Linked DNA regions of Homo sapiens: region 1 is linked to region 2. The links come from fine-mapping of genetic effects on gene expression. A gene starts in region 2. The other region holds a variant in brackets. All regions are shown on one strand. Distances are between the middles of the regions.

Region 1 (4,536 bases), 44 kb after region 2:
TACTATCAGATCCTGCTATGGTTCCAAATTCACAATTTTGTTAATTGATTCTCAAAATTAAGTCCTTTATTGCTAAATCCCATAAGAACAACTCTGGCTCTGTTCTCCTGAAACTTTAAATAGTCTTAGTCCTCAGAAGGACTTAAATTCATGTTGTCATTCTTACAGCCTACAAAGACCTCTCGAAGATACTTCTCAGCATGCCCTCCACTAAATTGTGTTGCATCCACACAGCCACCGCAGAAAAATAGCTTTCACCTTGAAAATTAAAAGCCACACCTTGGAATTGATCACATATTATTTGCTAATGGTTTGAGGAAAATGCCTACGTAACTTATTCTTCAAAATTGCATCTCAATTTTCTTAACAACAACAGTGATCTAATTCCTTTCAAGAAGCTATGTGCCTACTTGAAGCTAAGATTAAAAATTAAACCCTTCCAATTTTTATCTAATTTTCTTCTGAATTAAATTTGGATACTTACTATGGAAATGCAGCTTCATGACAAAAACCTTGCTTTCTACTATCTGCCATCTCTCAGAAACTTTTAAAAAGACATGTGAAATCACTCTATTTCCTCCAAATAAACTGAATTATCAATGTTAATGGGAGACAGGGATAAGGTAAAATAAAGCTCAAGTAATTAAACTATTTTATTGTAAATATTCATATTACCTCCGAGCTAATTTTTACTAGAGGTGCTGGCAAATTCAAAACAAAATAAAAATTAGTTTCAGATTACTTCTTACTCACTAGCTAGGTGACTTCCTAACCAATCAACTTACTCATTCTCACATCAAATTCAGAATTCAAGCTTGTGTCTCAGCAAAATTACAAATTTAATGGACCTCTAGAATGCTTTAAATATAGTGGAACCACAAATGTTACATCCACATATGCCAAGAGTTTATTTTAAGGCCTTCATCACTTAATGATGAAGTCATTGGTTTGACTCTCAGACAACTGATAGGATAATAAATATGTAGTTAACATTAGTTCAATTCACACCTCATCTGAAAGATCTTTTGTTTCACTCCCATTTTAGAAGTCCTCTGCCCCTCTACCTATATTTCCCACAGGTTTTAACCTGGCTCCCGTAAGGAACACTTCTGGGAGTATTCAGTTATTTCTTTTTTAACCATTTATAATTGAAAATTTTATGGGTGTTGAATCCAGGCAGCCATCATCATTCACCCAGTTCAGATCTAAAAGGTTTCAGTCAACCACAGCAGCTCCTGTGGGCACAATGTCTGAAACCCTTGATAATAAGCATCTCTCTTCTTGCACCTCCTGTTTTCATCATCAAGAAATTCTCAATAGGCCTCATTTCCCCCTGTGAATGAGAGTTGCATAATCAATAACATCTAGCCAGTATAGCACTCTCCTCTTGGTCCATTTGGTTGCCTCACTTTGACAATGCCATTCTGATTTATAAGTGTTCTCAGTAAATGCTAGTTATCCATACCCTGCACTCCTTTCAATCATGGTAATTTAACACCAGTTTCATCCCCTTAGGAGTTTCTCTATTAAGCACCCTGCCAGATGTTTAACTGGATGCTCAATCTAAATCCTGCAGCACAGACCACATCCCAGGAAATGTTAACTCATTAAAGAGATTCCTACCTTTGAAGCACAAGTGGAAAAGGGAGTTTAGAAAATTTGCTACATCTTTAGCTTCATCTTTGGGAGTCTGACCTTAACTTTCACTAAGTCAAGATTCTGGAATATTCATGTCAATGCCATTGATATGTGGCATGGAGATAATTCTTAAGTCTCCTTTTCAAACACTTAGCTAATTTAGAAGTTCAAGAAAAAAGTACATTTCCTAACTGAAAGCCTTTTTTAGCCCTAAAAAAGGTGGATGATATGACAATATAC[A/C]TTTGTATATGATCCAATAAAAATCACTTAGTTCCACCCCCCTTTTTTCCCTTTATCTTTCTCATGTCTTTCTTGACTTAAAGGCTTTTAGAATTAATGTATCACTGGGGGAAATGTTGAGTTGTGCTCTAATTTTATATTTGACATTGACTGCATATCTTTGGCGATGTCAGTTAACCATCTTGGCTTTAATATATTATCCATAATTTACCATTCTTATTAAATGGCATTAATATATGTTGTTTTCTTAATGGAATGCTGTAATAAAAAGGAGATGATACTGTCAACTTTCTATGGACATGAAAGATATTTTTTGAACTCACCTCGATAAGTACAAATATTGCCAGCCACAATTCAAGACACTAACCCAGACACTAAGCTTGGTAGGAGGGATGCAGGGTTGACCAAGACATCGTTCCTGGACATCACTAAGCTTCATTTACATTTGGAGTTTTAAAAAACTTTTAACAAAAGAAATTCAAGACTTGTACACTGAAAACTACAAAATACTATTGAAAAAGATAATAAAGAAGATCTAAGTAAATGGAAAGCCCTCCCATGTTCATGGATCAGAACACCTAATATTGTTAAGGTGGCATAATCCTCAAATTAATCTATAAATTAAATCTGTATTACAGGATAGTAATACCTATCAAAATTCCTGCTACCTTTTTCACAGAAATTGACAAGATGATCTTAAAATTTATAAGAAAATGCAAAAAATAAATAATAGCCAAAACAAGATTTAAAAAGAAGAACAAAATGGAGGATCAACACTTCCAAATTTCAAAACTTATTAGAATAAAGCTATAGTAATCAAAACAGCATGGTACTGGAATAAGGCTAGATAGATAGATCAATGGAATAGAATTGAGTACCCAGAAATAATTCCCTACATTTATGGTCAATTGATTTTGGTAAGGGTACTAAGACAATTCAATGGAGAAAGAACACTGTTTTCAACAAACAGTGTTGGAACAATTTGATATCCACATGAAAAAGAATGAATTTGGATACCTACCTGACACCATGCACAAGACAACTGAAAATGGATCACACATCTAAATGTAAGAGCTAAAACTCTAAAATTCCTAGAAGGAAACTAGAGGAAAATCTCTATAATTTGGGATTAGGTAATAGTGTCTTACATAAACACCAAATTCATAAGAGACCAAAGGAAAAAAAGAGATAAGTTAGACTTCACCAAAATTAACAACTTGTGTGTTTCAAAGGACACCATCAAGAAAGTGAAAAGACAGACCATAAGATGGGAGAAACTCTTTGCAAATCATATATCTGACAGGGGACTTGTACCCAGAATATATTTAAAAAACTCTTACAACTGTACATAAAAAGACAAATATCCCAGTTTAAAAATGGGTAAATAATTTGAATAGACATTTCTCCAAAGATGTACAAATGACCTATAAACACATGGAAAGATGCTAAATATAATTATTAATTAGAAAAGCATAAATGAAAACCACAATGAGATACCACTTCACACCCATAAGAATGGCTAAAATCACAAACAATAACAAGCATTGGTCAGGATGTGAAGAAGTTGGAACCTCATACATTATGCGTAGGAATGTAAAATGGTGCAAACACCTTGAAAAATAACTTGGCAGTACCTCAAAGTTAAACACAGAGTTATCATATGACCCAGCCATTCCACTATCATATCTCATATACCTAAGAGAAATGAAAACATATGTCCACACAAAATGTTCTTAGCCACATTACTCATAATCACCCCAAAGGGAAAACAACCCAAATGTCCATCAACTGACGAAATGGATAAACAAAATATAGGACAGCCACACAATAGAATACGATTCAGCAAATAAAAAGGAATGAAGTACTAATACATATTACAACATGAATGACCAGAGTAGGGAATGGATCCACTCACCTCCCAACTCCAAGCATGAAGGTAGAAACTTTTCCATTTCTTATTCTTCATTCTGTAAATATTTTTTGAGCACCCACTATGTGCCAGTTGCCCTCCTCAACAGTGAGCAGAAAATATTATGCTAAGTAAAATAAAACAGTCACAAAAGGCGACATATTGTATGATTCCATTTATATAATATGTCCAGAATAGACAAATATGTAGAGACAGCAAGTAGATTAATGGCTGCCTAGGATTGGCAGTGGCGGTGGAAGAACGAGAAGTGACTGCTAACAAGTATGGGGCTTCTTTTTCAGGTCATGAAAATGTTGTAGACTTAGATAGTGATGATGGTTGCACAACCCTGTGAATGTACTTAAAACCACTGAGATGCTTCTCTAACCTCCCCGAATCCTCCCACCAAGTCATCAAATAAATTTAAAGTACAGATCACTAGATGAGATGAAGACTGGGACAGAACTATCCATGAAAGACCATGGTTTTACTTCCAGTTGCCACTCTGTTTCCATGGGCTTCTTTTCCTGTTGTTTAATCTTGACATCTGAATTGTCTTGTTGCCTTATCTTCTTACTTCTTACTTTCATTCTGGATTTGCTCTTTTCATCCCTAATAGCAACCCTGACCTGAAAGTTTAATTTGACAGAAATTAAAATAATACCTTCACAACGAATGCCAAATTCTCCACAGCAAAATGTCACTACGCTAGAGTTGCTATGAATTTTCATAATACATAAGGGAGAAAG
Region 2 (4,000 bases):
AATTCAAATCCTGCATACTCAAAAGAAAGGTTGGAGAAACATCTCGAAATTACAGTTGATGAATTTATAGTTTAGCAATTCTTAATTTGACAGTGCCGATCAAACTTGGGCCCAAATCTTGAGCTCATTACTTAACACCTGTGCAGCCCTGGGATTTTTTTTTTTTTTTTTTTTTTTTTTTTTTTTTTTCCCCTTATTTCTCTGAGTCTCAGTGTCTTCACCTGTAACATGGAGAGAATTGTATCAACCTTGTGCATTATCTGTAAGAAAGAAAGATAATCCAGTTAAAGCACCAAGCACCAGGGCTGGCACCTGTAGTCAGTGCTCAATCAATCACACCTGTTAGGGTTCTTGACGATTTGGGAACCGGAGTTTCTCGATTTTGCTATTCACACACAGAATGCTCTTTTACCATTAAAAAAGATTTTAAAGTTGTAAAAGAAGGAGATAATTTGGCCACCCTGTCATGGTCTGCCTTCTCTTTTCCAATTTTATTCTGCTTCTTGATTCTAATTGGACTAGAATATGTAGTTGTTTGCTAGGGCAGCTGCAACAAACTACCACAAATGAAGCAGCTTCACCAACAGAAACTTATTGTCTCACCGTTTTGGATCCCAGAAGCCAGAGATCCAGTGTTAGCAGGGGTCCTTTCTTCTGATTGCTGCAAGGAAGAATCTGTGTCATTACCCTCTCCTAGCATGTGGTAGTTTGCTGCCAATCTTCAGCATTCCTTGTCTGGTAGAACCATCACTCTGGTCTCTGCCTTCATCTTCACATGGAGTTCTCCCTGTGTATGTGGCTGTGTAAATATTTTCCCTTTCTACAAGGACATGCTCATATTGGATTATAGCCCACCTTACTCCAGTGTGACCTCATCTTTACTTACATCTGTAATGACCTTATTTCCAAATCAGGTCACATTCTAAAGTACTGGGGATTAGGACTTTAACATATGAGAATACATTTCAATGCATAACAAAATGCTATAAGACTCTCATTATTTCCATGAACTTTCTGGACTGTAAACTCTAAAGGAAACAAGCAGGACCTAATTACAACTCTGGTTGTCAGCCTCTTTACCTTGCCAGCAGTCTGCACTGGAGCATGAATACGTAGCATTAAGTGTATAGGGAAAAGAATCTGATCTTCCTACCGAACAGCAAATCTTGTTCTAGAATTTTATCTGATTGTTTTTAAAGTAGAAACACCACAATTAATGTCTTGCACTGTTTACTTTCATCTATTGCAAATAACAGTTCAACTAAAAACCACTTCACTGACAAGACGGGAACTGAGAAACCCTATCAAAGGAAATGAAAAACATGGCACAGCTTGATCAAAAACCTAAGGATGAGCTTCAGCTGAATACATGAATAGCTGATGTTGCTCAAAACATGGGAGCCAGCTCTGAGGCTTGGAACAATTTTTATTACGAAAAAATTTTCTTTGGGTAGATTTTTTTTTATTTGGTTTCCTTTTTCTGTTGTTTGAAGAATGATCCATATGCAGATTTTTTTTTTTTTAAGGCAGAAGGCTGGATGCACAAAAGGTTTGCAGTGAAAAGAAAGTACACCTCTCTCTGTGCCTCCCAGTAATCCAATTCCACTCCCTGGAGGCGATGCCTACCTACCGCCAATTCCTTTAGTCTCTGCATTTAAAAACACAGATAGATTCACACAAAAGACAGCAAGTGGACTACCCTGCGCCTGGCTTTTTTCTCTTTACCTTGTATCTTGAAGGTTCTGCCAGATCATTAGCTGTTTCACTTACCATAACAGCTGCACTCACTGTGTTCCAGAGTCATGAGTCTTCTCGGGTAGGAATTTTTTGTTTGTTTTGTTTGTTTTGTTTTTTGTTTTTTGTTTTTGTTTTGAGACACAGTCTCACCCAGCCACCCAGGCTGGAGTGCAGTAGCATGGTCTTGGCTCACTGCAACCTCCGCCTCCTGGCTTCAAGCAATTCTCATTCCTCGCCTCCCAAATAGATGGGATTACAGGCGCCTGCCACCAAGCTGGGCTAATTTTTGTATTTTTAGTAGAGACAGGGTCTCACCATGTTGGCCAGGCTGGTCTCAAACTCTTGACCTCAAGTGATCCATTGTGTAGGAATTTTATGTATAAAGGAGCAGTGTTCTCACAGTCCTATAATGTGCCACCTCCCTGCCCCAGCTCCATACTGCTTCACCACTGCCAAGGAACTGGAAGGCAGGGCTTATGCCTACAATACAATGTCAAATGGAATGACAGACAGACTTGTACTGGAGAAGTTCTGTTTGGTCACCTGTAGTTTAAAAAGAAAAAAAAAAAAAGCCAGTTCAGGAATCATTGCTCCTCTACCAAGCTTCCCTCCCTTCCCTTCCCCTCCCCTCCCCTCCCCTCCCCTCTCCTCCTCTCCCCTTCCCTCCCCTCACCTCCTCTTCTTCTTTTTTTCTTTTTTTTTTTCTTTTTGAGATGGAGTTTTCCTGTTGTTGCCCAGGCTGGAGTGCAGTGGCATGATCTGGGCTCACTGCAGCCTCTGCCTCCAGAGTTCAAGCAATTCTCCTGCCTCAGCCTCCCTAGTAGCTGGGATTACAGGTGTCCACCACCATGCCCAGCTAATTTTTTGTATTTTTAGTAGTGACGAGGGTTTCACCATGTTGGCCAGGCTGGTCTCGAACTCCTGACCTCAGGTGATCCACCGACTCGGCATCCCAAAGTGCTGAGATTACAGGCATGAGCCACCACATCCGGCCCAAGCCTTTCTTACTTCCTTTGCTCCTTTCACTCCTAAAAGGTGAAGGAAGTGTAAACTTTTTTCTAAAAATAACAAAAAAAATTGTAAGAGTTTATTTGTATATTTAAAGTGGCCTAGTTACCTTTGCTAATGCTCTAATTTTTTAAATTATTTCATTTTAATTTATTCTATTTTATTTCACTCTGTCTTGCTCTAGAAAAGACTCACAAAGGCTCTAGTGTCTTGTAAAAGTCCAGAATAGCACAGATTTTTCTATTTGCTTGGAAATTTACAGATTTTTTAAACTGCTTTTAAATATTAAGAAGGTCTTTCTGCAGAGAGTAACAATGTGGAGTATTACGTAATTATTGTTCCAGTCCTCTAAAATGCTTTTTCAAATTGTACCTATTCAGTTCAGTTGATTAATTAAAAGTTAACAATCTCCTGTGTCAAATCTTCTAATAGATAGAAAATTAATCATTCCTTTTTATATTATATTTATCATGCTTTTTATTACAAAAGTAATATATTCATTGTAAATTTATCTAAAAATAAAGACAAGCACATTGCATTTAGTTACCCAAACTGGCATTGGGATTTTTCATGGATACTCCCAAATATTTTCTCATGCACGTCATATGTTTATGTTTCAATAAACTCAGGATCATATCACATGTACTAAATGGCAAACTGCTTTTTCTACCTCATCATGTATAAAGAACATTTCGGCATCATTAATTCTACAGCACGATTGTTAATAACTACATTGACTCTATCATAGAACTGGAGTGTGATTTATTTCAAATGTCCCACTGTTGAATATTTAGGTGGTTTATAGTGATTAAGCATTCAAAACAATATTGGAATACACATACGCATAACTTTCTTGCACATTTTGCCAAATTATTCTCCCAAATAATTTAAACATTTGTTCTTAACATTTGAGAGAATGAATCCCTTTGAGAATCTGATGGATTTTGCATCTCTTCTCAGGAAAGGGCAAATATGTTCAAATTTTTATGCATCTTCGGAGCCTTCCGACCAAAACAACCCCAGATTGAGAACGCAGTAGCATTTTATGTCCCTACAAACCATATGAACGCCCTTTTGCTCACACTATCCCTTTGTTTTCAAACTTTCTGCTGATTTGAGAGATGAAACAGTACATCAGTCTTTTCTTACTTTGTATTTTTGTATTGCTAATGAAATTTGAACACTTTTTCCAGAAGTTGATTGATCATGTATTTTTTGTACATTGCTTATTCAAGCCTTCTATCTAATATAATTC

The links. PIP is the estimated chance that this variant, and not a neighbour inherited with it, causes the effect. A credible set is the group of variants that fine-mapping cannot tell apart.
Region 1: its variant is the best candidate, but not a certain one, in a credible set for the expression of LINC02067 in testis (GTEx, PIP 0.76).

The regions. Positions count from the first base shown.
Region 1 is chr3:161,379,774-161,384,309 of GRCh38, reverse strand. It overlaps LOC107986150 (a long non-coding RNA gene), which reads right to left. Exons shown (of 3, transcript XR_007096152.1): 1 at 1-4,536. Among named protein-coding and RNA genes, the nearest start is that of SPTSSB, 11 kb to the right of the region's middle. The variant A/C (reference allele first, on the strand shown) is at 1,879.
Region 2 is chr3:161,424,261-161,428,260 of GRCh38, reverse strand. LINC02067 (long intergenic non-protein coding RNA 2067) reads right to left here and starts at 1,834. Exons shown (of 4, transcript NR_102265.2): 1 at 604-1,834.